2 linked regions of the Homo sapiens genome follow. The protein of the gene in region 1 interacts with the protein of each later gene in a pairwise test. Each region holds a gene or a part of one and is shown on either strand. Other genes may lie near its edges. The genes, in order: NECAB3 and LRP8.

Region 1 (13,410 bases):
TCAGGCAGGGGCCTCTCAGGTCCCGCAGGTGCTCAGAATGAAGTGAGGGGCAGTGAAGGAGCGGGCCCTGGGGGAAGGGGGGATGCGGTGCCTGCCTCGGCCAGGCCTCCCACCCCACCCCAGGCGCACCTGTGTCAGAAGAGCCGGGGGACCAGGTGGATGACCGGCTGACACTCCTCAGGGCTCGGCGTCCTGCCCGCCGGCTGCCGCAGAGCCTGCTCTGCGCCTCCACGCTCTCTGCATCTGACCTAGAGGAAGTGAGGCTCACAGGGCCGAGGACTGGGGCCCCAGGACGGGATAAGCCTGGGTGGGGAAGACAAGCCTCCTGGGACTCCGAGGCCTAGCCCCAAAGCCAGTCTCATTTCACCCCGCCATGGCTACCCTGCCATGGCTTCCCCGCCCGAAAATGCAGGCTCCAGGATGCTGGGACTGTGGGGATTTGGAATGGGGGTACAATGGGCGCTTGTGCACTAGCCCCACAGGTTGACAGCACCCTTACATACCGCCAGCCATGGGCCTGGGCCTCCAGGGTATCTGACGCCCCCTCCAGCGAGCTCTGAAGGGCTTGCAGCTGGCTCACCGTCTCCCGCAGCAGGAAGCGCGTCACAAACTGGTCCACTTTGGAGGCCCTCTCGTACTCCTGTGGGCCAAGGAGGGACGGTCAGCATCTCCCAGCCCGGGCACTGATCTCTTGAGTGGGTCCCCTGCCTCTTGCCCATCAGAGCAGCGGTGGCAGTGCCAAGAGCAGGGGCACGCAAACCTGGCACAGGCAGGAGGGTACTGAGACCTGATGGGCAGGGAGGGTCTGGATCCCTCCTTGTCCGGGACTGGCCTCCCTCCCCGGAGGTGTGAGGCCAACTCACAGGGGGCATCTGCCCAGCGAAGTGCCTGGCCTCTCTGGACCTCATGGCCCCTTCCCTGATGGGGCTACCACCTTCAGCACTGTCATAGCCAGTGAGTCCCAGCCACAGCTAGGCTGGGTGGGGGCTATCACGAGGTATCCAAGGGCCAATGTTGACACAAGGCAAAATAATGGCGTGGTGTGGCCCCAGACTCACAATCTACGTATTCACTCATTCATTCATTCACTCATACACACAACACTGGGTGCTTTTTACTAGGAGCTGCTGATAAAAGACAATCAGGTTGCCATTCTCACTCAGACACACACGCCGGCACTGACCCCAACCGACACTGCCAGCCTCCTCCCAGCCCCTCTCAGGGTGGCAGAGAGGCAGGGAGGCTGCCCAAATGCTAGGCCCTGCATGGCCCAGCATGGGATTCTGAGGCTCCTCAACAACCGTCAGTTCCTGGAGCTTCCATTTCCTCATCTATCAAACAGGAAAGATGAAACTCAGCACATGGAGCTGCAAGAACGTCCCAGGAGTTAATTCCTGCATAGGACTCAGCCCAGGGTCTGGCACGTAAGCTCTCGATGCCAGACCTACCAGCCATCTATCGTCAAGTGTAATACAATAAAGGGCCTGCCCACTTGTACACCCAGGAGTCACAGATGTCCTGAGAATTGCCTAACCCCTACCACACACACACACACGCATCAGGGTGGGAGTCCTGGGGAGCTGCAGTCCAGGTGCCTGCCCTCTCCGAGGAGACTCCAGAAGCCCCATCCATCAGAGACTTCATCTCCTGCCATGACCTGCCTCAGCTCAGCCATCGGATGGGACCTCCTGGGCCAGGCTTATGAGCTAGGAGACAGGGACAGAGAAGAGGCTGGGTCTTTTCATTCTCAGACAGGCCAGGGTTTCTATCTCCATGAAATCTTCCCAAAAAATTCCTTTTTGGGTATTTGAGATGATTAGTTTCTGTTGCTTTCAACCAGAGAACAGACAGAAGCACCCACTCAGAGCCAAGCACTACTGCAAGAAGAATTTCATTTAGTCTTTTGTTTTTCTGAGACAGAGTCTCACTGTATCACCCAGGCTGGAGTGAAGCGGCATGATCTTGGCTCACCGCAACCTCTGCCTCCCAGCTTCAAGCAATTCTCCTGCCTCAGCCTCTTGAATAGCTAGGTTTACAGGCCTGTGCCACCACACCTGGCTAATGTTTGTATTTTTAGTAGAGACGGGGTTTCACTATGTTGCCCAGGCTGGACTCGAACTCCTGACCTCAGGTGATCCACCCGCCTCGGCCTCCCAAAGTACTGAGACTACAGGCATTAGCCACCATGCCAGGCCTCATTTAACCTTTGTAACAATTTACAGGAACCATAATTGACCCCATTTTGCAGATGAGAAAACAGGTCCAGAGAGGTTGATTACCTGGGCTAAGGTCACATAGCAAGTTAGTAGCAGGGCCAAAATTCATACCCAAACCACAGAAATCCCCCTCTATTCACCACTAAGCACCTTACATGCATTGCCTCATTTATGATCATTAGCCCAGTTTTACAGCTGAGAAACCAAGGCTAGAAGTGACTGAGTGGAGCCCAGATTCACCTGTGGGCCCTGGAAGGCGGTGCTCAGAGCCTGCAATTGGTGAGGTCAGCCCGTGAGGTCACAATGTTGCCAGGGCCCAGGGGGCAGAGCAGACGGAGTGTGGGCCATCGTCCCCAGTGGTGACCAGCCCTGCCATGGGAAACTATAGTTCCCACAAAAGGACCAAAGCACCCAAGCAGGCCCGCAAGGAGAGGCCGGCTGACATGGACAAGGCCTGGTGGAAATCGTTCCTCAACCACCTCACTCGGAAGAAGCCGGCTGTGAGGGCGGGGGATGGGGAGCAGGGCTGGGGAGGCAGCTGGGGGGCAGAGAAAGCTGGACAAGTGGGTGGGAAGGGATGCTGGGAGTCTAGGCCTTGTATGCAGAAGTCCTAGGGGGTGAGGGAGGAATTCGAAAATCTCTCCCAAGGATGAGGATCCCAGGAGCCCATATGGGTGTGGATGGGGGTCCTTTCAAGGTGGCTCACGCCTGTAATCCCAACACGTTGGTAGGCCAAGGTGGGTGGATAACTTCAGCCCAGGAGTTTGAGATTGGCCTGGGCAACATAGGGAGGCCCCATCTCTACAAAAATTAAAACTTAGCTGGTTGTGGTGGTGAATGCCCGCAGTCCCAGCTACTCAGAAGACTGAGGTGGACTACGTGAGCCCAGGAGGTCAGGGATGCAGTGAGCCGTTGACAGCACCACTGCTCCAGCCTGTAGGACACAGCAAGACCCTGTTTGACTCAGTCTTAAACAAAAAAAGCCCAGAAGGGAGGGCAGAGATTCCAGAACCAGAAAGTGGATGAGACTTGAGAGCCCCGGGGGGTGAGCATGAGTGGGATTCTCTCCCAACCCTGGACGAACGGGTGGAGATCCCAACACGGAGAATCAGTTCTAGTTGGTACTACTGGAGCTAGAGGCAGGGGGAATTCCCTAGTGTCCTCTCTTCAGCTCCTAGGCTCAGAACTTCCCTGTCTCCCTCTCAAATGAGCAGAAGCCCTGGACCAGGCGGGGGTGGGAGGTGCTGAAAGCCCCTGACATAGGGCCTGGAAGGGATCTCATAAACTTAGACGGAGCTGGTCTCAGGAAGTCAGCCTGGGATGGATGAGGGTTTCCAGAAAGGAGGCGGAGTCCGGGGCGCCACGCAGGGAAGGGCGGGCTTCCCCGCGGCCTGAATTGGACAGGGGTCCCCTCCAGCCCTGTGCACGAGAGGATGACAGGACCCGGGTGGACGACAGGACCCGGGTGGACGAGGGTCCCAGGAGAAGCGCGGAGCGGCCCCGGGTCGTGGGCTCGGCCCTAGCGCGCTCTCCCGCCTCACGCCCCTGTTCCACCCCCAGACCAGGATCGTGCTGATTCTCCCCCTGGACAAGCGGCAGCCGCTGGCCAACGCTGGGCAACGGATTGACTACGCGTCCGGCGCTGGGCTGGGCTCCCCGGCGGCACCCAGATTGCGCGGAGCGGGCGAAGGTAGCGAGCGCGAGCCGAGGATGCCGGTACTGCTGCTGCTGCGGCGGCAAGAGGCGCGGCGGCCGGAAGAGGGCGGGGCCAGGGCAGCTCTGAGCTGGCCGCGGCTGCTCTCGCGCTTCCGGTCCCCGGGGAAGGCTCCCCGCGAAGCCGGCCCCGCCGAGGAGCAGCCGCGCAAACGGTGCCGCTGCCCTCGCCCGCAGCTTTAAACGCTTGGCCCGGACCCCGCCCAATAAAGAGTGCGTGGCAACCCTGGCGCCTGCGAACCCTGTCGGAGGCGTCTGGGCGCGGAGTCGGGGTGGGCAAAGCTCAGCCTAGGAGCCGCAGAGGGGTGAACGGGGCGTGATGAAGGCAGAGCCATCGCCACGGTCTGGAGCCAGGGCTGTCTTTTGCTTTCTCCTTCCTTGTGCCAAGGGTCAGAACAGAACCCCAAACCTTGCTACAGTGGCGGGAGGCAGTTTCCTTCCCCCAACACTCCAAATCCAGGTCACATCCTGCCCAGTCTGCAGGCTCAAGGGAGGTGGGCTTGGGCAAACCCAGGCTTGGCCACGCTAGTGAGAGGGACCTGCTTCCGGTAAAGCCTGACATCCCCCCAGCATCCAGAAATCCCTCTTAGGCATGAGGGAGGGTTCCCGGCCAACAGGCACCATCCTGGGTAAGAACAGCCAGGATGGCAGTCAGCTGGGGCAAGGCCTGAGACGTGGATTCTGCCTGGGGACGCACCCAGGAGAAGCTGGAAGCCCTGGGCCTCTCTCTGGCCCCTCACTCCTACACATTGTGCTTGGTAACCCCAAAGCATTCAGGCCCCCCAGTCTTCCCCAAGGCACCTGTCTCCCAACCTACCCTGTCCCATCTCCTTCCCCACGTGACAAAGACTAATTCCAAACCACTTACCTGTCTAGGGCAGCTCACTCCCCTGCTCATAAGCTTTCAACAGGTCTCCATTACCAACAGGGAAAAAGCCCACAGCTTCAGTCTCACTCCCCAAATCACTTAGAAGAAGCCCTGCCACACTTTCTGTGGGCGGGATCCTGCTGCTGCTTCTCCTCACTCTCCCGGGTCCCAAATCCAGCTCCACACCCAATGCCACCCCTGGCCTGCCAAACCTGCAGCCCGCCTTCCTGCCACACTCTGGTGACCAACCTCAGGATGCCCTCTTTTGGGGGCAGATGCAGCAGGACTGAAGTCCCAGCTCACTACAGCCATCAGCCCAGCTTCTGCTGAAGATGCACTTTTGTCACCGCCACCAGGATGAACATCTCCTCCACCTTGCCTGCACCAGGCTGGAGGCTGCAAGAGCTATAACATCACTCCTGCTAATTGTGAGAACTGACTCTTCCCTACCATCCACATGGTTACAATCAGGGTAACCATGTTCTTCCATGGGGCTGCACCTCCTGCCCATACAGTGATTGGCCCAAGCTGGTCCTGTCAGCCCCTCCCCCTAGGACTGTGATTCAGGAGCTGTAAGAGACCATGTTCTCTACTTGAACATGCACAGGCTAAGCCAGCCTTCAGAATAAAAACACAATGCAGGCCAAGCGCAGTGGATCACGCCTGTAAACCCAGCACTTTGGGAGGCTGAGGCAGGCAGATCACGAGGTCAGGAGATCGAGACCATCCTGGCTAACACGGTGAAACCCCGTCTCTACTAAAAATACAAAAAACTAGCCAGGCATCATGGCGGGCGCCTGTAGTCCCAGCTACTCGGGAGACTAAGGCAGGGGAATTGAACCCAGGAGGCAGAGGTTGCAGTGAGCTGAGATCACACCACTGCACTCCAGCCTGGGCAAGAGAGCGAGACTCCATCTCAAAAAACAAACAACACAATGCAGTGCACATCCTGGGTTCCCCACAGCCCCGCAGTCAGATTCTGTTCCTGAAACCTGATTTCACCCTTGCTCTTGATATCCATAACATGTAAGATCCTTTCAATAAAGTCCTTATTTTGGGTTACATTCACCTGAGTCTTCTACCTGCAACCAAACTGGTCCTCAGGAGGATGAGGCTTTGCAGAGACAAGAAGTGACCTCTTTCCTGTGTGGGGGGATTATTACTACCTTTTGGAGGAGAAAACCGAACCCAGAGAAAGATCAAGACTTGCTTAGGACTGCACAGTGAGTCAGCTTCAGAACTGAGTCTTGCTGGGTGCGGTGGCTCACACCTGTAATCCTAGCACTTTGGGAGTCCAAGGCAGGTGGATCACCTGAGGTCAGGAGTTCGAGACCAGCCTGGCCAACGTGGCGAAACCCTGTCTCCACTAAAAATACAAAAATTAGCCGCGTATGGTGGTGCATGCCTGTAGTCCCAGCTACTCAGGAGGCTGAGGCAGGAGAATCACTTGAACTCGGAAGGCAGAGGTTGCACTGAGCTGAGATTGCAACGCTGCACGCCCAGCCTGGGTGACCGAGACTCCGTCTCAAAAATAATAATAATAAAAAAAAGAACTGAGTCTCAAACTGAGGCCCACGTGAATCCATCCGTGGAAGCCCATAAAGGTAGGGCCAGAGCCTCTCGGGGGCTCTTCAGGGAAGCTGCAGATCTGTGATGAAAAAGCTTTTTCTTCAGCACTGGGAGGGGTAGGGGGCCACACATCTGGACAGAGTACATCAGATAATTCTAAGTGGTTTGGGAAAGGAATCAGACTGTGCTGGGCTGCTGAAGCCAGACCCCTGGATGCCAAAATCACTGCCCTTGGCTCTGTCCAGAAGAGAGGATGGGTCCAGGGAGTTGTCATAAGGTAGGGAGCTGCGAAGTGCAGCTGCTGGGGAGTGAGGTCACAATGAGCCCAATCCAAGTTCTTTTCTGCCTTCTGACCAGCCCCTCCCCTCTCCACAACCAGGAACTTCCGTCAAGCCCAGGTGAGAGGTGCCAGGAGGCTGCCTGGGTCCTCAAGGGGGATATATGTCCAAATGGCCTTACCACAAGGCCCCTTCGCCCTCAAAGTTCTGCTCCTCCCGGGGGCTTCTTAGGATCTAAAAGGATCAGTCCTAGCCATCTCGTCAGCCATCTCAGCAAGGGCTGACGGGGCGGAACAGCAAAGCAGAGGCGGGTCCTGAGAGCGTGGAGCCTGAAGCCCGGCGCCAGAGGGAGACCAAGAGGGTGAGATGCGGCTGGAACCCAGCCAGAGCGGAGACTGAAGCCTGAACTAGGGGCCGGGCCTCAGGCCTAGGAACTAGCCACGAGCTGAAAAGGAGGCGGATGGCCCGGACAGAAGAGGCGGGGCTTTCAGACCAGAGGGCGGAGCCAAGAGCTGAAAAGGGTGGTGATTTGGTCCAGAAGAGGAAGAACTTAGGCTCCGGAGGCAGAGCCAAAGGCTGAAGGGGACTACTCCCTAGGACAGAGGCCGGGAGGTATCGGGCCGACGAAGCCGAGTGGCGCGGAGGAGCGGAGCCTTCAGCCCCGCGGCTGGGCCGAGCCCGAAGGTGGCGTCGGTGTCGGGGAGCCGCCGCGTGCACCGGCCGTCCTCCCTGGGCCGCATCGCGGTGGTGGTGGACCAGGGCTCGGGCTTCACCAAGGCGGGCTTCGCGGGCGAGAACCAGCCGCGCATAGTGCTGAAGAGCTCTAGCTTGGTGCCCAGCTGGGACCGGCCGGTGCTGCCCGGAGCGCCGGGCTGCGAGCTGGCGGGCGGCGTGGCGCGGGCGCACCCCATCAAGCACGGCGTGGTGGCGGACTGGGAGGCGCTGGAAGGGCTGTGGGAGCGCCTGCTGGTGGGCGGCCTGCGGGTGTGCCCAGAGCAGTGGCCCGTGCTGGTGAGCGACTCGCCGTTGGCGCCGCCCGCGGGCCGCGAAAGGGTGGCGGAGCTGCTGTTCGAGACCCTGGCAGTGCCCGCGTGCCACATGGCTAGCACCGCGTTGCTGGCGCTCTGCTCCACCGGCGCGTTCAGCGGGCTGGCCGTGGAGGCGGGCGCGGGCGTGTGCCACGCCACGCCCATCTACGCGGGTCACTCGTGGCACCAGGCCACCTTCCGACTGAACGTGGCAGGCAGCACCCTGTCGCGCTACCTGCGGGATCTGCTGGTGGCGGCGAACCCTGACCTCTTGCAGCAGGCCCTGCCCCGCAAGGCCATCACACATCTCAAGAAGCGCAGCTGCTACGTGTCCCTGGACTTCGAGGGCGACCTCCGCGACCCCGCCCGCCACCATCCGGCCAGTTTCAGCGTGGGTAACGGGTGCTGCGTCTGCCTCAGCAGTGAGCGCTTCCGCTGCCCCGAACCCATCTTCCAGCCGGGCCTGCTGGGCCAGGCTGAGCAGGGGCTGCCCGCGCTGGCCTTCCGGGCGCTGCAGAAGATGCCCAAAACGCTGCGGACACGCCTGGCAGACACCGTGGTGCTAGCCGGCGGCTCCACACTGTTTCCTGGCTTCGCCGAGCGCCTGGACAAGGAGCTGGAGGCGCAGTGCCGGCGGCACGGCTACGCGGCCCTGCGGCCCCACCTGGTGGCCAAGCATGGGCGTGGCATGGCTGTGTGGACCGGCGGCTCCATGGTGGCCTCCCTGCACTCCTTCCAGCGCCGCTGGATAACTCGGGCCATGTACCAGGAGTGTGGCTCCAGGCTGCTGTACGATGTGTTCAACTGAGTCAGGCTGGACTGGGGGGGGTGGCACTGCGTTGGGGGACAGCTCTCTATCTAAAGAGTCAAGTGTTTGGAGCTGGCAGGGTCCTCCTGGAGGTTGGAGCTGACTGGATGGGTCACCCCCATACCCTTTCTGGGCCAGGAGAAGGTATTTGGGACCCATGGGACCCTCATTTTGAACTGCAGTTTGAATCTCCCCAACCACTGCCAGTTCAGAGAATGCCAGTCCAGCTGCCTACCCACAGGGCCCTACTTTATGGCAATAAAGGTGATGCCCCACTTGTGTCCATGCCACAGATATGGGAGTTCCTCCAAACCCTCGTCATGTACCATTTGGACATACATCCGATGCCAGGCCCCAAGGGGCGATCCCTTGAAAAGCTACTAAATCTCATGTGAAAGTCACCAGGAGGAGGAGCCCTGTGCCTAGCCATGTGCTCAGGTCATTGTTGACTATGAGTGCCTCAGTTTCCCCTTCTGTAAAAAGTGGGGTCAGGCACAATCCCGGGCCTGCTCACTGCTCCCTCCCCCTTACAAGAGCTATGGAGCAAAGGGAGGTGGAGATATTTCTTGAACACACAAAGGGAAGGGCAGCTTATTTTTTGGAAGTCACCACTCAAGGGCCTCAAGCCCTGGCTATCAGCACTGTTCGAGCTTGTGTATACACGTGTCCACACAAACGCGTGGGTGTTCACGTACCTGCCTACTCACGTATGTCCTCGGGCCAGGCCCTGCCCTGTGAACCTGTGAGCACAGCCTTCCACGCCTAGCCCAGCCCTGAATGATATCCCACCACAGTTGTGATGGGCCAGCAACTAAAGCAACAGCAGCCCCTAGTATGAAGCACCCAGTGTATGCCAGACATTATTCTGGGTGCTGGAAACAGAATAAAACAGACAAAAATCCCTGCCTTCGTTCTCACTGGTCACAGTGATGTATGAAGGGCAGCTCTATTGTTATGATGGTTTACAGATGAGGAAACAGGCCCAGAGAGGTCAAGGGGCACAGCTACAAAGTGGGAGCCAGGATTTGAACCCAAGCCCCTAGCTCTATAACCCTGAGTCAAGACTGTGGAGGATCCCACAGCACAGCAGATGCCCACTGCCTCACAGTGGATCCCCCACCATCAGCCACTCCACTCACCAGCTTGGTGGCATCCATGGCAGCGAGCACTGCACGGTTCAGCGATTCCAATGCAGCCAGCACCGGCCGGTAGACACCCAGGTGCTCTGAGAAGTAGTCTGCAGGCAGAAGAGGTGCTCAAGGGTTCCTGGACCCCCACCCATCTACCCACCCTGGGATTCTGGCCCCCTGGAATTCCTCAGCAGCCAAGCAGGCCTTATATCCTGAGCCCAGCCCAACCTGTCCCATCAGGAGACCAGCAACAGTCCCTTGCCACACGTACCCTGGGGCCCAGGGGCCACAGGAGAAAAGAGCTCCCATGGGCCTACTCACCACACAGTTTTTCTGTTTCTAAATTGCTGCAGGGAAAAGAGAAGGCGCCCTTCAGACCTGGGCCTGGTAAACTGGGACTAATGGGGCCAATGCCCCACATCCCACCCCACCAACTCCCAGCTTAGCCTAACAAGGCCACTTCTGCTCCACCCCAGATTAAGTTGCTCCTGTGGACAGAGTCCTTGCAGGGTTGGAGAATGGGTTCTACTGCCCCCACCAATCACTCTAAGGGCAAAGATTCAGACCCATTCTTGGCTACCAAGAGGATCTCAGGCCAGGGGAAGATGGATGTGGACACAGGCCAGTGAGAAGTGGTCAGAGCTGCGAAGGGGAAGCCAGGTGCAAGGCAATGAAGTCCAGGGACGGCATGGGGTATTTAGTTGTAGGTTAGGGAGGGTTTCCTAGAGGAAGAGCTGCCTAAGTGAGGCCCTGAAGGACAAGGAACTGGGTGGGGAGTCTGGCCAGGAGGGGAGGGGAAGCACTGCAGATGAAGGTTCCAGCCCAAGTCTCAGGAGCCTGAGACTGACCCTCAGGAAAGGGGAGAAGGGAAGTAGAGGGAGTAACAGCGGTTCATGCGTGTGCACCCCTGGGAGCAGGCACGGGAAGGAGCGTGCACACTCCTGCCAAGACGCGTAGATGTGGGAGCACACAAGGGGTAGATGGTTGCGTGTTTATGCACTGCATTCTCGGGTGGAAGCAGGCGGGGCCCAGCTGTCCCCAGGCATCCTCTGGTCCCTGTGGGAAGCGGGAATGGGGAGCTGAGCCATGGGTGGTGACTCAGACTTGGCTATTTTGGGGTCCCAGCTGGAAGCAGTGTAGTGGGCAAGGCTGTAGCTGGAGAGGGGGTAGGCAGGCGGGTAAAGTTGGAACTGAGCCCTGGTACCTTTCTCCCTGCCCCCTCTTCCTCATCCTACAAAAGGAACCAAGGCAGCAGGGGACACAGTGGGGTAAAGACAACCTGGCCTCGCATCTACCCACGGCCCCCTCTCATACTCACTCGGTGAGATGCCCATCAATGCCGCTGAACAGTTCCTGCAGCTCCCCCAGGCTGAGAACCCCATCGGCAAAGTAATTCTGGAATTCCTCAAATGAGAGCTTCCCATCATCTGGGGTGGCAGGGGGAGGACAGGGAGCAGAGGAGGTATCCCTGACCCTGACTGCACCCCTGCCACCAGGTCCAGGGTCCCAAAGGCCTCATAGCATCTGACAACCATCTAGCTAGGTGAGATGGGAGTCTGAGGTCAGTGGGGGGCCTGACTGTTGGGGACAAAAGGACTGGGGTCCTTGAAGGTGTCCAGTGAAGGCAACAGAACCTACTTTGCAGGCACCAAAGGGACAGGGCAGTATGTACATAGCGTTGGGTAGGAACTCAGTAAATGTTTGCCAAGTGAAAAAACAAGCAACAGGCTGGGACACGGCCACATTGTGGCAGGGCCTAGATGTCACCTGGAAGGACTTGGGGACCAGCCTCACTGCAGGGCACAAGGAACCTCCATTCTCTGGACCCAGGACCTTCACAGAGAAGCCACGGGGAGGCAGATGGAATCCTCCTACTAGTTGGAGCCTCTGTAGGCAGCAGCAGGCTGGCTCAGAAGGGAATGAGCTCCCCATCACAGGGGCATGTAAGCAGAGGCTGGGAGTACTTATGTGGGACAAAGACATGGGATTTGGCCTGAATGATGTGTGAGGTCTCTGAGCAGATGGGTGCGGGGAGCTGACCCGGGGGAGGATCTGAACCTCCCCAGACAGAACTCCCTGGTCCAAGTGAGAGCATGTGTCCTGATCAATGGGTTGGGACAAACAATCCCCATCAATTTGAAGAGACCCAAGGAGAAGGGGCAAAGAGTGGGGACAGGACCCCGTCTCTAGGAGGATGAAACACAAGAGGGCGTGAAGACCCAGATGAAAGGAGCCCCAGGCTGACTGCGAAGCTCAGACCCTCCACGGGCCACACAGGGCACAGTGGGCTGCTCCAAGTCATCTAGGGGGAGCAGCCTGTTGCTGGATGGGTCCCCTAGGGCTCCTGCTTTAGCTTCCAAGTTTCTCCCAGACCAGGGTCTGAGACTGCCCAGGACCCAAGGCAGGAGGAGCCGACTCCTTTGGCACTGGACCCAGCTTTATCCTTGCCCAAGGCGTGGGTTTAGTTGTGTCCTCCAAGACCTCCCTGGTCCAGATGGTTGGTCACATGACAAGTTACTGAGCCCTCTAAAAACCTGAGTAAAATCTCCAAAAAGGCCTCATCTCCATTACCTCACTCTTCCAAGTGCCTCACACAAGGAGCCTGGGATTAAATGCTGCAAAGACCCAAGTTCGAGCCTATCAATTAAAGGCTGTGTGACCTTAGGCAACTTGCTTCACCTCTCTGGCCCTCTGCTCCTTTATGAAATAGGGTGAATTCCAATCTAGCTGGTGGTTGTGAGGACAACAGAGGGCCACGTACAGGAAGTGCCCATCACCATGCCAGGGTGCTGTGTGAAAGTCAGCCCCTATCTCCAGTCCGTGGCCAAACCACATTCTCTCCACTCTCCATCCTGCCAAACTTGGCTGAGAACAGCACTTCCTCTGGGAAGTGCCTTGATTGATTCTCCTGTTTTGGGCCCCCAAGATTTGTCTCAACTCTTGACTTCCCACCCAACCTCCCAACTCTCCCTGGGCCTCCTGGATGCCTCCCACCCTGCCCCACTGTGGGACCCAGGGGAAGCCACACTCACCATTCTTGTCTGCTCTGCGGAAAACCTAGAGGACAAAGGGACATAGAGAGAACTGTGAGTGCCACCTGGGAAGCCAGAGGCCCCCACTCAACCCGACAGGGTCCCAGCTGGCCGACCTACCCCCTGCCTCGCCTTTCCTCCCGCCCAGCCTGGTCCCAAACCACCTGCCCAGCTCAGCCCTGCAGGAGCTTTTCCTGCAAGCGGGGCACAGGAAGAGCACGCAGCGGGTGCCACCTCTGCTCACTTCTCCTGCAGGGCCTGGCCTCGTGGGGGGTGCTCCTGGCCAGTCCCCTGCGTCCCCACCTCCCACACCCAGAGTGCAGCCCAAGTTCTATCTGATACATCAGCCCCTGGCACAGTTCCAGCTTGAGGAAGGTTGAGGAGATGGGCCAGGTTGTGGCCCAGGAATCTTGCACAGCCGTCCTAGACCTGAGCCCCGAGCTCTGCTGTGTGGCCATGGTCTACCCCAGCTGCCCTCTCTGAGCTGTTTCCTTGCGTGCTGTTGAAAACCAACAGCAGGCAGTGGCTACTCTGTCTCTGCAGGCGCCTGAGTTACCCACTAGCAAATAGATCAGGAGCAGCTGGGGTTAACTCTTTCAGGGCTGGGGCTTCCTATGGGGCTGACTCTGAGGACCTTCGGCAGGCGTGTGTGTACACACACACGTCCAAGGGGGAGTGGGGGTGGCAGAAGGCAAGTTCGGCAGATTTCATTTATGGAGAAGTGGAGATGAAGAGCAACAGAGGCAGAGAGGAGCAGAGTCAAGACAG
Region 2 (16,628 bases), on another chromosome or scaffold:
TTAACATAGTACCTAACAACACATAGGGCCCAGAATATCCTAGGTCAACGTAACCAACATAAAATAGAATCAGACTAGTATCTCCCATCTCTGGACATTCTACATATGATAAAAAGTAACTCTACTGCCTTTCAAGTCATCTTTGGGTTATCTGTAGTTTTTTTATGAATGCAATGGCCATCCTCCACCAGTGTAGATATTTAAGACTATCTTATTCTAGTCTAGCTACCCTCCCACTCTCTCTAAGACAGATCTCTAGGCCAAAGATAGGCCCCAGTAGTGATGGTACAGTTATCCGAGAAATGGACAGAGGAGAGACAGGTTGTTGAGAATATTGATTTCCAGAGCTTCAAGGCTATTTACCTCACGATATAAAGGAAAGAGCATGGGCTTTTGTGTATATACAGACTGGAGTTTGAATTCTGGTTCTGCCACTTCCTGGCTATGACCTTAGGCAAGTTATTCAATTTCTATGAGTCTCAGTTTCCTCATCTGCAAAATGGGGCGAATAATATCAGCTTGATAAGGTTATTATGAAGATTAAATGAGAAAATATATGTAAAACACTGGGAACAGTGTCTGACACACAGTAGGTGCTCACTAAATGTTGATTTCCTTATTTCTCTGCAACTGGCAGAAGCTTATTACTTGGTCCTTAACACTCATCGGGAGTAACTCCCCCTGAGTCATTTCTTTCTCTGGAAATAATGTCACTTTACATGTGCAGAGTGCTTTGTAAGTCACAAAGTGCTCTCACACGTGCTATCTCACTTGTACTTTATAAACTCAGGAGGCAGGTAGAATGGGGGTTGTTATTCTCATTTTACAAATAACAGTGAGCAGAAAGAAGTGACTGAGATCACAGGGCAGTGGAAGGATGGAACTGGGAGTTTTCTTATTCCAAGTTCAGTGCTTCTTCCACTGTGCTCCCTCTGATCTTCAAAAACTGGTCAAGCAACTATTTTTTTGGACTGGCCGAGGTTAAGGATCCTCAAGGCCATCTGCTAACCCTCCTCATTTGCTCCATCTCATTTCCCATGTCTCCCCTTCATGAACAGTTTGCCTCAGCAGCAATTCTGTCTGCCCTGCCCCAAACTTGATTGCTTTCTTCCACATGCCATTCATTGGTCTGTGACTAACCCATTTTTCTTCTTTGCCCCAACACCCAGCTTACAATTTGCAGCCTTCCCAAACCAGAAAGCCTTCTAGGATTGGCTGCGCCTGCCTTGGTTCATGCCCTCACTCACCAGCCCCTCAGACTTAGAGTGGCACTGCCCTACCTTGGATTTGACGACAGGCAGCTCGGAAAGAGGGTTCTTCGGGAGTTGGTGCAGCTGTGACCTTGGTTCCCCCGGCAAGACAAAAAGCTCCTTGAGGGCAGGGGCTGGGTCTTCCGGTTCTCTGGTCTCCCCAAGACAGGGCTCTGCCCACAGTGGGCGATCAAAGCTGCTGATTGCCTGACAGGGGGATGGCACTGTGGATGACCTCTGAGGTCACACTCAGCCCCCTGACTGTGCTGTATAACAGTGACACCTGCTGTGCCACTTTGTGGTCCTCATTCCCCCAAAAAGCCATGCTGTGTTGTACCTTCAAGCCTTTGCACATGCCTCTATCTGGAATGCCATTTCCCTCCTTCTCTCCCGGGAAAACTGCTATTAATCTTTCAAGGACATAGTCCATCTGTCACCTTCTCTGTGAGGCATTCCTTGCCTGATTCCCCAGACAGAATTAATAGCTCCCTTGTTGATGTTTCCATGGCATCTGTTCAACAAATATTTGTTGGGAGTCAGCCATGCCGTGCTAGGCATCAGGAAAACAGATTAATCAGACAGTTCTGCCCTCAAGGATCTTATGGGTTAGTGAGGAGACCACTGAGTAAAAGACAAGTGGACTACAGTGTGACAGGGGCTGTGAGGTAGAGAGGCCCAGAGTACTGTGGGAGAACAAAGCAAGCCAAAGATAGCTTTCTAGAAGAGGGGACTCCTGAGCTTCCACCACGGCATTCAGCACACAATTATACCACTGTATGTTAGTATCTCTAACTCCCTACCAGCTTCTTGGGAGCAAGCATGTTCCTTATTGACTTTTGAATACTTGATATCTAATGTGGTGCTTGGCACATAACTGGCATACAGTATTGAAATGAATACATTTGAATTAAATGGCCACAGTTACCCTTCCAGGCTAAAGGTTCTGAAAATTTACTGAGCAGAAAGAGAGACATTTGGCTTTTTTTACTGCCAGGAAGAGCCTCTAGGTACAAGGTGGTCCTGATACCTTTTTACCTTAACCACCTACCCCAGCATTTCTGTGTTCCCCAGGGCCTAGAACAGTGCCTGATACATGGTGCGTTTTTGATAAATGTTTGAGGAAGGAAAGAAGGAGGAAGGGAAGGAGGGAGGAAAGGAAGGAAAGAAGGAAAGAAAAAAGACAGGGAGGGAGGGAAGGACGGAAGGAAAGGAGGGAGGGAAGGACGGAAGGAAGGAAGGGAGGGAAGAAAGGATGGGAAGGAAGAAAGGATGGGAGGGGAAGAAAGGATGGAAGGGAAGATGGTCGGAAGGTAGGAATTCTCCCAGTGAGAAATACTTACTGCAGGATAGACATGGCCAATCTGAGCAGTTCTCCCTATATGGAGCTCATCTTCGTCTTCTTCTTCTGTTGTTTTCCTGTAGACTGGGTTGTCAAAATTCATGCTTTTGGTGTTCTTCCGCTTCCAGTTTCTCCAGATCAGGTATCCACTCATGCACAGGAGGGCTATCACCACTGGAGGAAGGACACAGGACACTGGACCTCCAGCAGGCTCCAACCCACTGCTCAGACATCTGTACAAGGCTTGTCACCACTCCACTTTTACTACCCTTTGCTCCTCAGGCTCTGTTTCTGCATGTTCTTTTACTGCTGTTTGAAAGCCCATCTCTCATCCCTTCTTTCCTTTACTAACTATTCATCCTTCAAGATCCTGTTCAAATGTGAAGTCTTCCCCAACTGTGGGCAGAGTCAGTTGCTCTCTCATGTGTGCTCCCAGATCACACACAGTATCTTACTTTATGTATCTGTACTCCCAACTAGATAGCTCTTTCAAGGCAGGGACTGTGTCTTTTTTTTGTTTTTAAACTCTCTACGCCCAGTTCCTAGCACTGACTAGGTGCCTAGTAACATGTGCTGAATGAATGAGTGAATTTTACCACACCTTTGCCCTAATGCTGCTGCTTCCCTAGATTTCTCTAAGAAAACGATTCTCTCCCAAAACTGGGGGGTGGAGAGTGGGATGGGGCCAGGCAGAGTGTTTATTTCCAAAGGTGAGGCTCCACCTGAAGAAGAACATCTCTAGAAGGAGACACAGAGGGCAACACAAGCTCTGATTTAGAATAAATGACTATGTTAATGATTAAAGGAGGAAGCTCTCTCCAACACAGCTGGGTAAAAATGGAGCAAGTAGCTTTGTAAGGTGATTAGCAGTCACTCTGAGCATCCCAGTGGAGGCTGAATGATCACCTATCTAGGATGCTATGGAAGGGGTTTCTGTTTTAGTAAGATTACAATAATTGATAAGCATTAAAGACAGGAACAAGGCAGTTATCATTGCTAATATTTATTGTCTTAGAGATCTAGCTATGCAGTAAGGCCAGAAAAAAATTTAAGGGTATAAATATGGGAAAGGAGCCCAGGTGCGGTGGCTCACGCCTGTAATCCCAACACTGTGGGAGGCTGAGGCAGGCAGATTACTTGAGGCCAGGAGTTCGAGACCAGCCTGGCCAACATGGCGAAAACCCATCTCTACAAAAAATACAAAGTAGTTGGGCATGGTGGCGGGCACCTGTAGTCCCAGCTACTCAGAAGGCTGAGGTGGGAGGATTGCTTGAGCCTGGGAGGTCAAGGCTGCAGTGAGCCACAATCATGCCACTGCACTCCAGCCTGGGCAACAGAGTGAGACCTTGTCTCAAAAAAAAAAAAAAAAAAGTAAATAAATAAATACATATGAGAAAGGAGGAAACCAAACTGTTATTAACAGCTATTTGTATTTTTAGAAACTCTTAAGAGAAGCTGGTGAAAAACTATCAGAAATAATTTTAGTTAATCAAGAATCAACATAAAAGATCATTAGCCGTCTTTTTAATCAGCAACAACCAATTAGAAAATTTAACGGAGGCCAGGCACAGTGGCTCACATATGTAATACCAACATTTTGGGAGGCTGAGGCAGGAGGATTGCTTGAACCCTGGAGTTCAAGACCAGCCCGGGCAAGATGGTGAGCCCTGGTCTTTACAAAAAAATTAATTTAAAAAATTAGCCAGGTGTGGTGGTGCATGCCTGTAGTCCCAGCTACTCGGGATGCTGAGGCAGGAGAATCCCTTGAGCCCAGGAGTTCGAGGATGCAGTGAACTGTGATCGCACCACTGCACTCCAGCCTGGGCAAGAGTGCAAGATCTTCTTGTCTCTTAAAAAGAAAAAGAAAAAGAAAAAGTAATGGAATAAAAATACATTCGTAATAGCCCATCAAAAGCTATAAAATACCTAGGAAAACCTAAGAAGAAATACGCAAGTCCTGTGTAATCTATAAAATTCTGCTGAGGGACGTAAAAGAAGACTGAAATAAATAGGCCACATTTCTGGATGGGAAGCTTTAATATAATAAAAAGGTATATTCTCCTCACATAAACTCATATATCTAAAACAATCTTGATAAAAACTTCACCAAAATTTTTATAGAATTGATAAGATTATTCTGAAGTTCACCTAGAAGAGAAACTGAATAAAAATAGCTGAGAAGATGTTGTGAGCATAACATATCATGAAGTTGTGCTAATAGTATGTAGGAATATATAAATCAGTGAAGGAAAATAAACTGCTTAGACGCAAATCAAAGTACGTATGGGAGGTAGTTTATAATAAAGATGACGTGCAAGTCAGGAGAGAAGTATGGATTATTCAATGATGGTTTTGGGGAAACTAGACAGGTATATAGAGAAAAAAACAGTTAAATCTCTACCTCATACGATACTCTAAAATTTAAATTCCAAATAGATTAATATCCTAATACTAAAAAAAAGTTTAAAGTAGAAAAGAAAAACATCAGGAGATATTTTAATAAGTTAGAGTGAGGCTGGCCTTCTTAAGCAAGACACAAAACCCAGAAATCTTAAAAGATTGACAAATCTGATACTTAAAAGTTTCATATTTATGCATGGCAAAAGATACCATAAACAAACTTTAAAACCAAATGTCAGACTGGAAGAAAATATTTGTAACATATATTTTAAAGGTTTAATATTTGTCATGTATAAATATTTCTATAAATAAGAAAAAGATAGCCAATAGAAAAATAAGAAAAGACTGTGAGTGGGCGATTCATAACAGATAAAATATAAGTAAAGGGGCTGATAAGCTTACGAAAATATACTCTACCTCACAGGGAAATGTCAGGGAAATAATACTCATCTTTCACTCCTCAGATTAGCAGAAATTAAAAATATTGAATATTTCAGAGTGAGTTATGTCAGCAAAACAGCATATATCTGCCTCTTTCTATAGGGCAAAGGATGGCAAGAAAGGGGTAGATTTATCTTTCTCCACTCCAATCAAAATAATCCTGGAATAATCACCTCACCATCATCTTTCCTGGTGAAGCCTTTCAAGGCCAATTCAAATGCTGTCTTCTCCAGAAGCGCCACTTTTACTCTGGAATTACCTTTCCTTCTACCATCCCTTCACAAGAGTATCATGCCACTATTACATTGTTCCTCTGTCTCTATCTATATCCAACATGCCCCTATCATAGCACATAATGACATGTATTAACATCTACCTTAAAGGACTTTATTTTTGCCTGATTAAAGACTGAAAGCTCTTAAAGTCTTTATTTTTTTCTTCCCTGGATCCTTGGCACTTGGCACAGTCAGTGTCTTACACAGGGGAGAAGTTTTTAAAACATTTGCTGACTAACTCGGCATACTGAAGATTCCCAGGATAAAAGGACAAAGTTCCTGTCCTTGAAGTACTCATAGCCAAGTAAGGGAGATAAAGCTCTGAATGGACAATCAGAATGCAAAGATACTGCTACGAGATGAGACTGCTAAGAGAGGGGTGTACAGGATACCGTGTGGTCATCAGGGTGGAAGAGAATGAATCAGCCCCCATGATTCTCTGTGAGGTCTTAACAAAGTGTTATACTCTGGCCATACTGATCTCCTTCTAGCTCTAAACCCACCCCACCCTGACCCTTCCAGGCCATTTCCTACTCCTGGCTTTACTCATGCTGTCTTCACTGCTTGGACTGTTCTTGATCCTCCCTCACTTGGCTGACCCAGCTCAAATATCACTTCTGTTAGGAAACCTCCTCTTCCCTCTTCCCCCTCCCCCAGCCCAAGTTAAGTGTTTCCTCAGCACTGTCTCTGAAGTCAGTGCATGCAGCTTAACCTTAGGACCTACCAGGTCGTAATGAACTTATCTGTGTTATGTGGGTCTCTCTAACAAGACTATAAACTTTTGTAGGACAGAACCATGTCTTATTCATCTTTAACTGCCTTTCCTCCCCTTATCAGAGTTTGGCACATAGTAGCTGCTTAATAAATACTTGTTGAAAACCAAACAGAAAGAAAACAAGACAGTATGACCTATTAAAGGAATGGTAAGCAGCTCTATTCATTAATTCAACAAATCCTTGATATCCTACCATGTGCTAGACATTGCCAGGAGCTGGGGAGAATGGTGAGCAAGAGATACCAGCCCTGTTCCTAGGGATCATACAGTCGCACTTCACATAGCTGGAGTGTAGAGTGTGAATCGAGGGGTGGGGAGATGGGGGATGTACCTGGAAGGTCACCTGGGGCCAGGTCCTGAAGAGCCTTGTGTGCTAGGCTAAAAAACCAAATTAAATCAGGACTGGGAGGTGGGCAGGAAGGCTGCAAGGGCAGAACAAGTCAATAGGGCAGGCCAAGTTCTCTACCCTGCTAGCGCTCTTCCCTAGGCCTAAGCAGGGTCTCTCTTTTCTCTTCAGTGACTGGGGGCCACACTCACCTATGGGCACGATGATCCCGATAACAGCGGCAGTGACTGTTGAGCCCATCTTACTGTCTTCATTTGCATCTGCAAAACACAAACATTTGCAGAATGATGCTCTATCACTGTGTGTCCAAGCCCCTACTGGCCTCAAGTGGTAAGAACTACCCAACTGCTGCTCATCCTCATTCTAAAATGATGATCCTGGCTGTTGCCTAATAATTCAGTCTTTCCAGATCCTATCACAACTCCTGTGAGGCAAGCAGGACAGAGGTTATCTCCATTTTACAGGCAAGGAAACTGAGTCTTAACTGAGGGGTTTCAGAAAAGTGGCAGAGCTGGGACTTGAACCCAGGACTCATGTCCCAAGTCCCATACCCTTTCCATAGCATCATGGTAGTAGGAAGCTGGGGGCTGTGCATGGCAAAGTGAGCACTTAGGTCTTTATGTTGCTGATGGACTAGGTCATTTGCCTTTTTCCATCAGTATCTGTTGCTTTGCCAGTATTGTTTTTTGTGAACTGTCTGTCCATCTGCATTATCAGATTATTTTTCATAAGTAATTGAAATGGGACATAGTATAGTGTAGAGGAATCAAAAGCGCAGACTTCTGTGTCAGACTTCTGGGTTCAAGTCCCAGCTCTACTACTCACTACCCATGTGACCTTGGGCAAATTATTATATATTATAAATACAGCACATGGTATTATACTTTTATATCTTTAAAATGGTGATATTACCTACCTCCTAGGGATATGGTAAGGATTAAATGAAATAATTTATCTAAAATGAATATAAAATGCTTGGCACAACTTTGCCTAGTTCTAAGAGGGTGGAGAGTGGGATGGGGTTGTTGAATAGGGTCTAAATTTTAAAAAGATATGTAAAAGCACATTTTAAACTGAAAAGTGCTTGGAAAATTTACTGTCTTTTTGAAAAACTATGCCATGCCATCTTTCTCACTCTTATAACCATCTTCATTGTAACATTTGTGAAGCACTTTATAGTTCAGAAAGCATTTTTCCCTTAGATCCTCCTGACAGCTCCCTGTGGTGTGAAAAGGAGCTATCATCTACACTTGCTGCAGGTGAGATGACTGTCCCGGCAATGGCCCAAGGCCCATCCTCTCTCAATGTGACTGTTTATCCATGTTACTCCAAGAGAATCTAACAGTTAAGGGGAGAAAAAGCTGCACTGCTTGCTTCCAGAGCTAACTGTGTCCTCCCTGCTGTCCTCCCTGCTCTGGGCCACAGCGAACACTGGACAGTGATATTAAAACCTAGAGCATGAGGAAGCCAGTGAGGAGAAGCTGGTGAGAGGCTCTGCCCTCAGATGAGAGGAACTGGAATTCACACATGCTCCATCTGCCTCTGCAAACTTCGGAGTAAGTGCTCCACTCCAAAAAGCCAGCTTCTGCTGGCAAATAGGACCAGTTAGGAAGATGTTGCCAAGCAGCTTGGTTTCTGGGCTGTCCATGTAGGGGAAAAAATTAAAAAGATAGTTTATCCTTTTAAATGAACTCCCTCTGGCAGGTAACTCAATTAAAAAGGTATTTGCTGATTAATGAGATAGAACATTTCTAGCAGTGACAATTACTGCTCCCAATGATTTAATAAGTGGTGAACTTAATTATTTTCATCCCAGGGTTGGAAAGAGGTATAAGGAGACCATGGTTGTAGATATTACTATCTGGGGACCTGCTGTGAACTGAGATCAGAGCTTTCCAAACACAAGGGACACCTCCTCATATACACATCAGAACTTTGTGAAACATAGACACACACACCCTCGCAGAGTCAGCAACGGCTGTGTGCGTGAGCACCTCCAGTTATACCGGTTACACCTTTGTCTATCATGGCAATCTTGTGAAGCAGGTTGTGGAAGGGTGGTTATTTCCACTTTGTAAGAGAAGCAACTGAGGCTCACAGGGTCTCAGCTTCCTACAAGACCCTCTGTAAGGTAGGGGCACCTATGAGTCCTAAATCGCAGGCTGGTACTCTACCTCCCTCTCAGATATGCAGTAACCTCCTCAAAGATATGCAGTATTCAGCTCTGGTAGGTTCTGTCTTATCACATACCCCCTTCCTGGCTTCCCTAGGAGCCCTCCCATGTCATGAAAGAATGCAGAACTCATTTCCTTACAGTGCTGGGAGTGGTTGCTGGTTGCAGGGCTTAGGGTAGACGGGCTGATGCTGGGAGCCCTGGGGACACTAACTGAGCTTGGGACTGCAGCTGTCAGGCTTGGTGTCTCTGTGCTGTGGTTCTGGTAGGTGGATCTGTGGACGGTGGTCCCGGGGGCTCTTGTGGTGGCAGGTACTGTCCTCGTCATGGTAGAAGCTAACGTCGTAGTTGAGGTAGATTGAGGTGCTGGAGGGGAAATACCATGGAGGTCACTTGGACAGATAATTTTGTTGCCTAAGGTATTGCCTCTGAGATATACTTAGGAACTTATCTTCATGGCGTAGCTCAAATGCCACTTCTGTGAAGCCTTTCCTAATCTCCCCAGTGGGCTATGATCTTTTCTTTAGCTGAATGCTAAGCACTTCACTTTGATTCAATAAAGATGAGTCATTAAAACATTGCTGTGGAATTAGTTGTAAGATCAGCAATAAAAAGACTGTAGGGAGGGGAAATCAGATAAATCTAGAAGGATTTTACACTCATATATTGTTATACCAATAGATTGAAATTCTTATTCCACTTTAAACAATTGAACCTGTAAATCATTAATAATGCAGTAGACTTAGGCTCAAATGAAAGGCCTTGGCTATACATCAAGATTAGGACATGAATCTGTGTATGCGGTTGAAGTATTAACTATTAGTCCCAATTATATTGCAAAAGGGCTGCTGTGTAGTGTTTGTTAAGTTCTAGGTGAGAAACAGGCAAATATATAGTTATCTGCATGTACCTGAAGCCACGGCGATTAAGGGTTCTTAACTTGAGGTTTTTAAAGCGTTCCAGAAACTCCCTGAAACTGAATTTAAAATGTTTTATGTATATGTGCATTTTTTCCTTGGGAGTGAGAAAAAGCTTTGGAAGGATCCTGGGGGCATGAGCATTCAAGGAAGGTAAAAAAGAGAAACCCCCAAAAGGCAACAAGTAACCAGGGAAGATGGAAGAAAACCAGCAGCATACTGTGTCCCAGAAGCCAAGGGAAGATTTCAGCAGGGTAGGGTCTGACACTGCCAGGGGCCATCCCTCCTGGAAGGTCTGCTTACCTCGGTAGCACCTCTTCATGTCTGGACCCAGCCACATTGTGTCAGGACAGGCACATGTGTACTTGGGAGAGTGGCTGGAGATCTGAGGAGCAGGAAGGCACAGGTATTCACAGCCTCCATTAGGCTGGACACTCAGCTCACAGGCATCTGGAGCTAATGGCAGAGAGGGAGACAGCTGGGGCACAGACAGGACATGCCAGGTCTTCCTGCCTCCTGAGGATGAGGCTTCTCCCACCTGGCTTGCTCAAAAAGCTTGCCCTATACTTTTTTTTTCACATTTTTTTTCTTTTTCTTTCTTTTTTTATCCCCCAAAGCTTTTGGGATACACGTTTTTTGTTACATGGATGAATTATATAGTGGTGAATTCTGGTACTTTAGCGCACCTGTAACCCAAGTGTAGTGTACATTGTACCTAATGTGTAATTTTTTTTTTTTTAAATCTCTAGCCCCGCTATTACCTTCTCCATTTTTAGTCTCTAAAGTCCATTATATGCCCCTGTGTACTCATAGCTTAGCTATACTCTGTATGCCCCTGTGTACTCATAGCTTAGCTCCTGCTTATAAGTGAGAGCATATAGTTTTTGGTTTTCCACTACTATCATACTTTACTTAGAATAATGGCTTCCAGCTCCATCCAAGTTGCTGCAAAATACATTATTTTGTTCCTTTTTATGGCTGAGTAGTATTCCAAGGTGTATATATGCCACACTTTCTTTATTCACTCATTAGTTGATGGACACTTAGGTTGGTTCCACATCTCTGCAATTGTGAAGCCCTTCTACTTTTTCAATTTTTTTTATGTTTTATGTTTTGAGACAGGGTCTCACTCTGTTGCCTAGACTAAGTGCAGCAGTGCAATCATAGCTCACTGCAGCCTCAAACTCCTGGGCTTAAGAAATCCTCCCACCTCGGCCTCCCGAGTAGCTGGAACTATAGGCGCATGCCACCATACAAGGGTCATTTTTATAGTTTTTGTAGTGATAGAGTCTTGCCTTCTTGCCCAGGCTGGTCCCAAACTCCTGGGCTCAAGTGATCCTCCTGCGTTGGCCTCCCAAAGTGCTGGAATTGCAGGTATAAGCCACCATGCCTGGCCTCCCTACTACTTTTATTGGGTACTTTCCAGCACCATACCTAGTGTTTTATCCCTACACTCTCATTTAATCCTTGCAACAATTCTGAGAGGTGGGGACGTTACATCCCAGACTGACAAATAAAGACACCTAGGCTCAAAGAGAACAAATTCGTCAAACCTATACTCTAGGAATTTTTTTTTTTTTTAAGAGGTAGGGGTCTTGCTCTGTCGCCCAGGCTGGAGTGCAGTAATGCAATCATAGCCCACTGCTGCCTGGAGCTCCTGTGCTCAAGGGATCCTCCTGCCTCAGCCTCTCAGTGTTGGGATTACAGGCATGAGCCACCATGTCTGGACTAGAGATAGAACTTAAATTGAGGTCGGCTGGGCTCCAAAGCCCATAAGCCCGCGGTTTTTATTTTTCCCTGTGCCACATACTATGTCTCTCATTTAAATTTCTAGGTCTAGAATCAGGCACCAATCTTAGCTCCTTACACTCCCTTGCTCTCCCTCTTTCACCCTGGCAGCCAACACTTCAGTTACAGTTAGAATTAATGTATCCTAGTGATAGAGGAGGGGACAACCTAGTAGTAGGATTCCTAGATTCTATTCCCAACCAATAAGCTGACTTATTATATGGCCCTCGGATACATTAGCTTATACTACTGCAGAATGGCTACAAATAGCAAGTTAGATGCAGTGTGTCATGGTGAAAGCAGCTGTGGAACCAGATAGACCTGGGTTTAGGTTTCAGTTCTGCCACCTGCTAACATTATTTTACCTCTCTGAGCTTCCGTTTCCTCAACTGTTAGAAGAGTAATACCCACACTTTGTAGGATTGGCAAAAACAGGACAGTTATGTATTCATTTATACCCAGCCTTATTTCACAAAGAACTTGAGGTAAAATGAGACAAAATATATGATGAAAAAGTACTCTACCAACAAGAGGGATTGTTGTTATTATTCCTGGGGTTGCTGAGTTGTGACCTGAATGTGAACACAGCCTGCCTGGTGAAAGGAGAGGACACAGTGACACAGTCAGGGGACCTGGGACCTAGGACCAGAGACAGCTCACCTCTTGGCTGCTTCAGCTCATGGAAGATGACAATGTCATGTGGGTTGTTGAGGTTCTCAGCCAGGATGGAGATTTCCAGGCCATTGAGCCGATTTGCACTGAAAATGGCCTCGTTCTCCAGGTCTGTCCAGAACACCTTGTCCTGTGGGGTATAGATGCAGAGGATGGGAGGCCTGGAGTGTAAATCCATGACCTCAGTCTGAGGGGTTGGCCCCAAACCATAGTCACAAGAACTTCCCTGAAATCTCCCCTGATCTGTCCTGTCTATGGATTCACGGTGGGGCTCTCAGCCTCTAATCTGTGATGCACGTCTCCTTGTTCCCTTCTATCTTAGAGGATTATTCAGTGATTCTGTGCTTTGAACTGACAGCCACAACATTACTCATTCATGCTGAACTAAGCCTGCTTGCTAGAGCCCAGCAGAAACCCAAGGTTAAATCTCTATAGCATTATCATTACTGGGGCCTGGGACCAAGATTGGAAGGAATGTGTGAGCTATGAGGGTTATGCCTTGCTGGGCTTCCTGTAGCCTCTGGGTATCCACACGAGTCCACATGGTTAGTCCATATAAGCCTAGATGTGCATCTGTCAGCAAATCCACACGTACAGGTACAACTGTGCATCCTCATACACAGATCTAAACACATACCCAAATGTTCATCCACACACAAAAAGCTACATTTGCCCCTAAATATGCAGTCTATATACATCTTGGTATATGTATGTACACACATAAGCACCAGCACTTAGAGGAATGCACACTTTTATTCTGATGCATTTATATTTACCCATGCACATACACATACTTTACATGTACATGCCATGTATATAAACAAGCACAAACACTTGTGTACCAACACACCTGTCCTTTAAAGCAGGGGCTGGACTTAGAGGTGGAGCTTTGCCCACAACTTCAGAGCAGTGCTGAGTAACTTTGCTGCAAGCAAATCCTGCCAATGCCCACCACAGACCATCATCCCTTTGCTTTCCCTCCCCTTGGTGGTGGAGTTAGTTTTCGGGAAGAGGTGAAGGTGTGAGACCTTGGTTGGTTCTGGCTTCTTCATTCCCGGAGAAGAAAAGTCATTAGGGTCAGGGCACAGGAGGGTCTTCGCTCCTCACTTTGCTGGGAGCTTCTTGAGACTAGGATAGTGTCTGATTCACTTCTATGACCCCAGGGTCTGGCAGAGGTCAATAAAAGTGTGCAGAATTGAACAGCATCTCTCAGGCCATTTCCTCCAGTAAATGATTCTAAGGATATGTATGTTCCTTCTTCCTTTCCTCCCTTTACTGGGTGCCTTTTGTATATGGGTTACAGTGCTGGGTGCTGAGGGCACAGAGAGGAAACATACATGCCTAGCAGCTCACCTGTGAGAAGTGCTCTGGGAGAGGGGTCTTGGGAAGAGAGCGTGGGAAAGGCTGCCAGGTGGAGAGTGGGCTGCAGAGCCTTTGTGTGCAGGCAGCTCACAGATTGTTTACAAACAAATCAGTTGGTTTCCCTGTTCCTGTTTTCATTTGAACAAGTCTCAGGGACTCATCCTATTTGAACAAGCATTTTCTAGGCTTCAGCTTCCTAGTGGGCCCTTGCCTCTCCTTACAGGACTCACCTCAAACACAGCTATCCCAAAAGGGTGGCTCAGGAAGTCAGTGGAGGAGATCAGCGTCTTTCTGTTGCCTCCACTGAAGTCAATGCTGGACAGTTGGTGTAGCTTGGAGTCTACCCAGTACAAGCGCTGGCTCAGCAGATCTTGGGAAGGAAGCAGGATCAGGTCATGAACCTGGGACCCCAGTCTGGAGCTCTGTTCCTTTGTACCTCTCCCTGCCCACATTTCTAGGCCTCACACTGAGGCCAGCCTACGGCAACCATTAGGAAACAAAGTCACTGGCACCATGAGAGGACCCAGAAACAAGACTCATGGAGTTCCAGACAGTGATCAGGACAAGGCACTAGAATAGGCCCCCAACCCAGGAAAGGCAGGGCTCACCCAGGGTGATTCCGTTGGGCCATTCAATATTGTCTGACACCAGTGTTTGCCGGTCCACACCGTTGAGCCCAGATTTCTCAATCTTGGCCTGGTCCCCCCAGTCAGACCAATACATGAACCTAAAAGACAAAATAACCCAATTTGCCTTCTTGCTGGGGACATGACCGGGGTGGTCTGAGTCACAAGAGCTCAATAACCCATTGACTAGTTGTGGTTTATGTTTAGTAGGGACTGAGAAGACCTCTAAAGTTCTTTTGAACCATCAAATCTTAGATTTAGCAGGCACTTTAGCCTTCACCTCATTTGAGAACTTGAGGAAAACTATTCTCCGAGATTGCACCCAGACTCAGCTGAATAGCCTGTGACCCCATCTCTCCCACTTCTGGCAGTGCTAACTAACTAGAGCCCTAGGGTGTCAGTGTGGGGAAGGCCCTAGTAAGCCCTCTCTTTTCTGGTTTCAGAGGAGAAAGTGGATGAGCTTCCTAACTCAGGTAACCCTCCCTGCTTTTGTCTCCTCAGGCCTACTAGGGCCAGTAGCAGCCCACTGTTACTAATCCAAGGTAGTAAATTAGACCTAACCCACTCCTTTGTAAATAGTCCCTTTATTAAACCCTCCTCTGATTATCTTGAGTATGCAGTGGGTTTCCTCCTGGGACCCTGACGATCCGCAGTGGATTGGGGTTGGGCTGGGTGTAACTCTATGATGTGAGGGACAGGATGTGGCAGGTGCAACACAAGGTCTGCATGAGAACAGACAGAGAACAGGGATGAAGTGAGGGTAAGAGGAGAGGCTCCGTATCTGTCAGAGTGCCTAGTTCTGTGCTGGAAGCACCTGACCCATGCTTAGTGAATGGCAGCTATCAGTCACTTCCCAAGGCCTCACATAACCTCCCATGTGGTACTCCCCTCACCAGCTGCCCTTGCTCGAAGAAGAGGGTTTTCTTATCCCTGTTTAACAAGGAAATAGCAGTAGGAAGCAGCTGTTGATTCTGTTAAACTTAACATGATATAACGCTAAAAAAACCATCTCAAGATATCCACACTGAGGGAGAGAGGGAGTCCTGTTCTGTTCAGAATCCCTAACTCCCAAAACTGAGGGGTGGCCAGAGCAGGGCAACCTAGGTGGTGAGGGCCCAGAGACCATAGGCAACAGGGGTAGGGATGGAGGCAGGCAGTCTGAAGCAGAACAGACCAGTGATCTTGGTCCTCAAATCTTGCTGGCTCTCTCACAGGGCAGGGAATAGACATGTTTTATGTAACTCCAGAGGCCAATGGAGGAAGTTGCAGGGAGATAGATTTGGCATTATGAGGGGAAAAGACCCACTTTCTAATGAGCAGAGCTGCCCCACGGTGAAACAGGCCCTATGGGAGGTAATGAGCTACCTGTCTTTGGAAGTATGTGAGCAGCTGTCAGATGCTCACCTACAGCAGCCTGAAGAAAGGCTTCCTCCCCCAGGAGCTTCTATCAGGCCATCTCTAGAGCCCTACTCTGCTCTGAGACACTCCAATTCTACGATATAACGAGTGGGTGGGAGAGTCCAGGGAGAACTTTGGTGACCAATGCCCAGAGAACCTTGGTTGGGGATTAACAAGACTTTCTTCCCCATGGCCTGTGTCTGAGTGGCCCAGAGCTTTCTAGAACCCTCAAGATAGCCCTTGTGACAGACACAAGAGGACTGAGCACCTATGGTGGGAGAATGGGAAGTTCAGTTGGGACACTCACCCTCGCAGGGGGTCAACAGCGATGGCCCGGGGTTCACTGAGGTTACGGCTGAAGAGAGTGCGTCGGCGGCCACCATCAACTGTGGCCACTGAGATGGTCTTATTGCCCGAGTCAGTCCAGTAGATGTGCTTGTGGACCCAGTCCACTGCCAGGCCCTCTGGAGAGTGCAACTGCTCGTCAATGAGGACCTCCTGCTCTTTCGGGTCACTGGCCTTGTCCATGTAGGCGCTTAAGAGAAAACAGAGATGACCATGGGGCAGATGTTCCACCCATGGGCCCATCTGGAGCTACCTGTGCACCCTTCCCCTCTCTTCCATCTGGGCCATGGCAATAGATTTTTAGAGGAACGTGGATAATTTCCACTCTACACATTCCCTGGGGTACCAGGGTAGGGGTACAGACTTACATGGGCCACGGTCTCTGGCTTTCTAAGGTGGGGCTGCTCCACAGCTCTGCCCATTAGGGTGAGCCAGATATAATACAATGTGATTATGGAAAGCATTAGAGGCTATGGCAGCAGAGGCATGGAGACTGCCTCATCCGAGAGGGCGGGAGAAGG

The links.
Region 2: the proteins of NECAB3 (region 1) and LRP8 interact in binary tests that used the Homo sapiens proteins (3 or more experiments, as listed by UniProt).

What each region holds. Positions count from the first base shown.
Region 1 is NC_000020.11:33,659,756-33,673,165, forward strand, and holds part of NECAB3 (N-terminal EF-hand calcium-binding protein 3), read right to left. Parts: intron 12,668-13,410; coding exon 12,643-12,667; intron 11,038-12,642; coding exon 10,929-11,037; intron 9,958-10,928; coding exon 9,932-9,957; intron 9,718-9,931; coding exon 9,620-9,717; intron 8,771-9,619; exon of another isoform or gene 8,481-8,770; coding exon of another isoform or gene 7,743-8,480; exon of another isoform or gene 7,188-7,742; intron 4,154-7,187; exon of another isoform or gene 4,113-4,153; coding exon of another isoform or gene 3,777-4,112; exon of another isoform or gene 2,717-3,776; coding exon of another isoform or gene 2,591-2,716; exon of another isoform or gene 2,457-2,590; intron 2,427-2,456; exon of another isoform or gene 2,367-2,426; intron 641-2,366; coding exon 504-640; intron 280-503; coding exon of another isoform or gene 249-279; coding exon 130-248; intron 1-129. Other genes in the region: uncharacterized protein C20orf144, read left to right, coding at 2,591-2,716, 3,777-4,112; ACTL10 (actin-like protein 10), read left to right, coding at 7,743-8,480. UniProt on the Homo sapiens protein: Inhibits the interaction of APBA2 with amyloid-beta precursor protein (APP), and hence allows formation of amyloid-beta.
Region 2 is NC_000001.11:53,248,100-53,264,727, forward strand, and holds part of LRP8 (low-density lipoprotein receptor-related protein 8 isoform 1 precursor), read right to left. Parts: intron 16,298-16,628; coding exon 16,070-16,297; intron 14,466-16,069; coding exon 14,347-14,465; intron 14,109-14,346; coding exon 13,969-14,108; intron 12,507-13,968; coding exon 12,365-12,506; intron 10,373-12,364; coding exon 10,220-10,372; intron 9,366-10,219; coding exon 9,141-9,365; intron 8,383-9,140; exon of another isoform or gene 8,029-8,382; intron 7,157-8,028; exon of another isoform or gene 7,087-7,156; coding exon 7,018-7,086; exon of another isoform or gene 6,998-7,017; intron 6,629-6,997; exon of another isoform or gene 2,793-6,628; intron 2,764-2,792; coding exon 2,591-2,763; intron 1,458-2,590; coding exon 1,281-1,457; intron 1-1,280. UniProt on the Homo sapiens protein: Cell surface receptor for Reelin (RELN) and apolipoprotein E (apoE)-containing ligands. LRP8 participates in transmitting the extracellular Reelin signal to intracellular signaling processes, by binding to DAB1 on its cytoplasmic tail.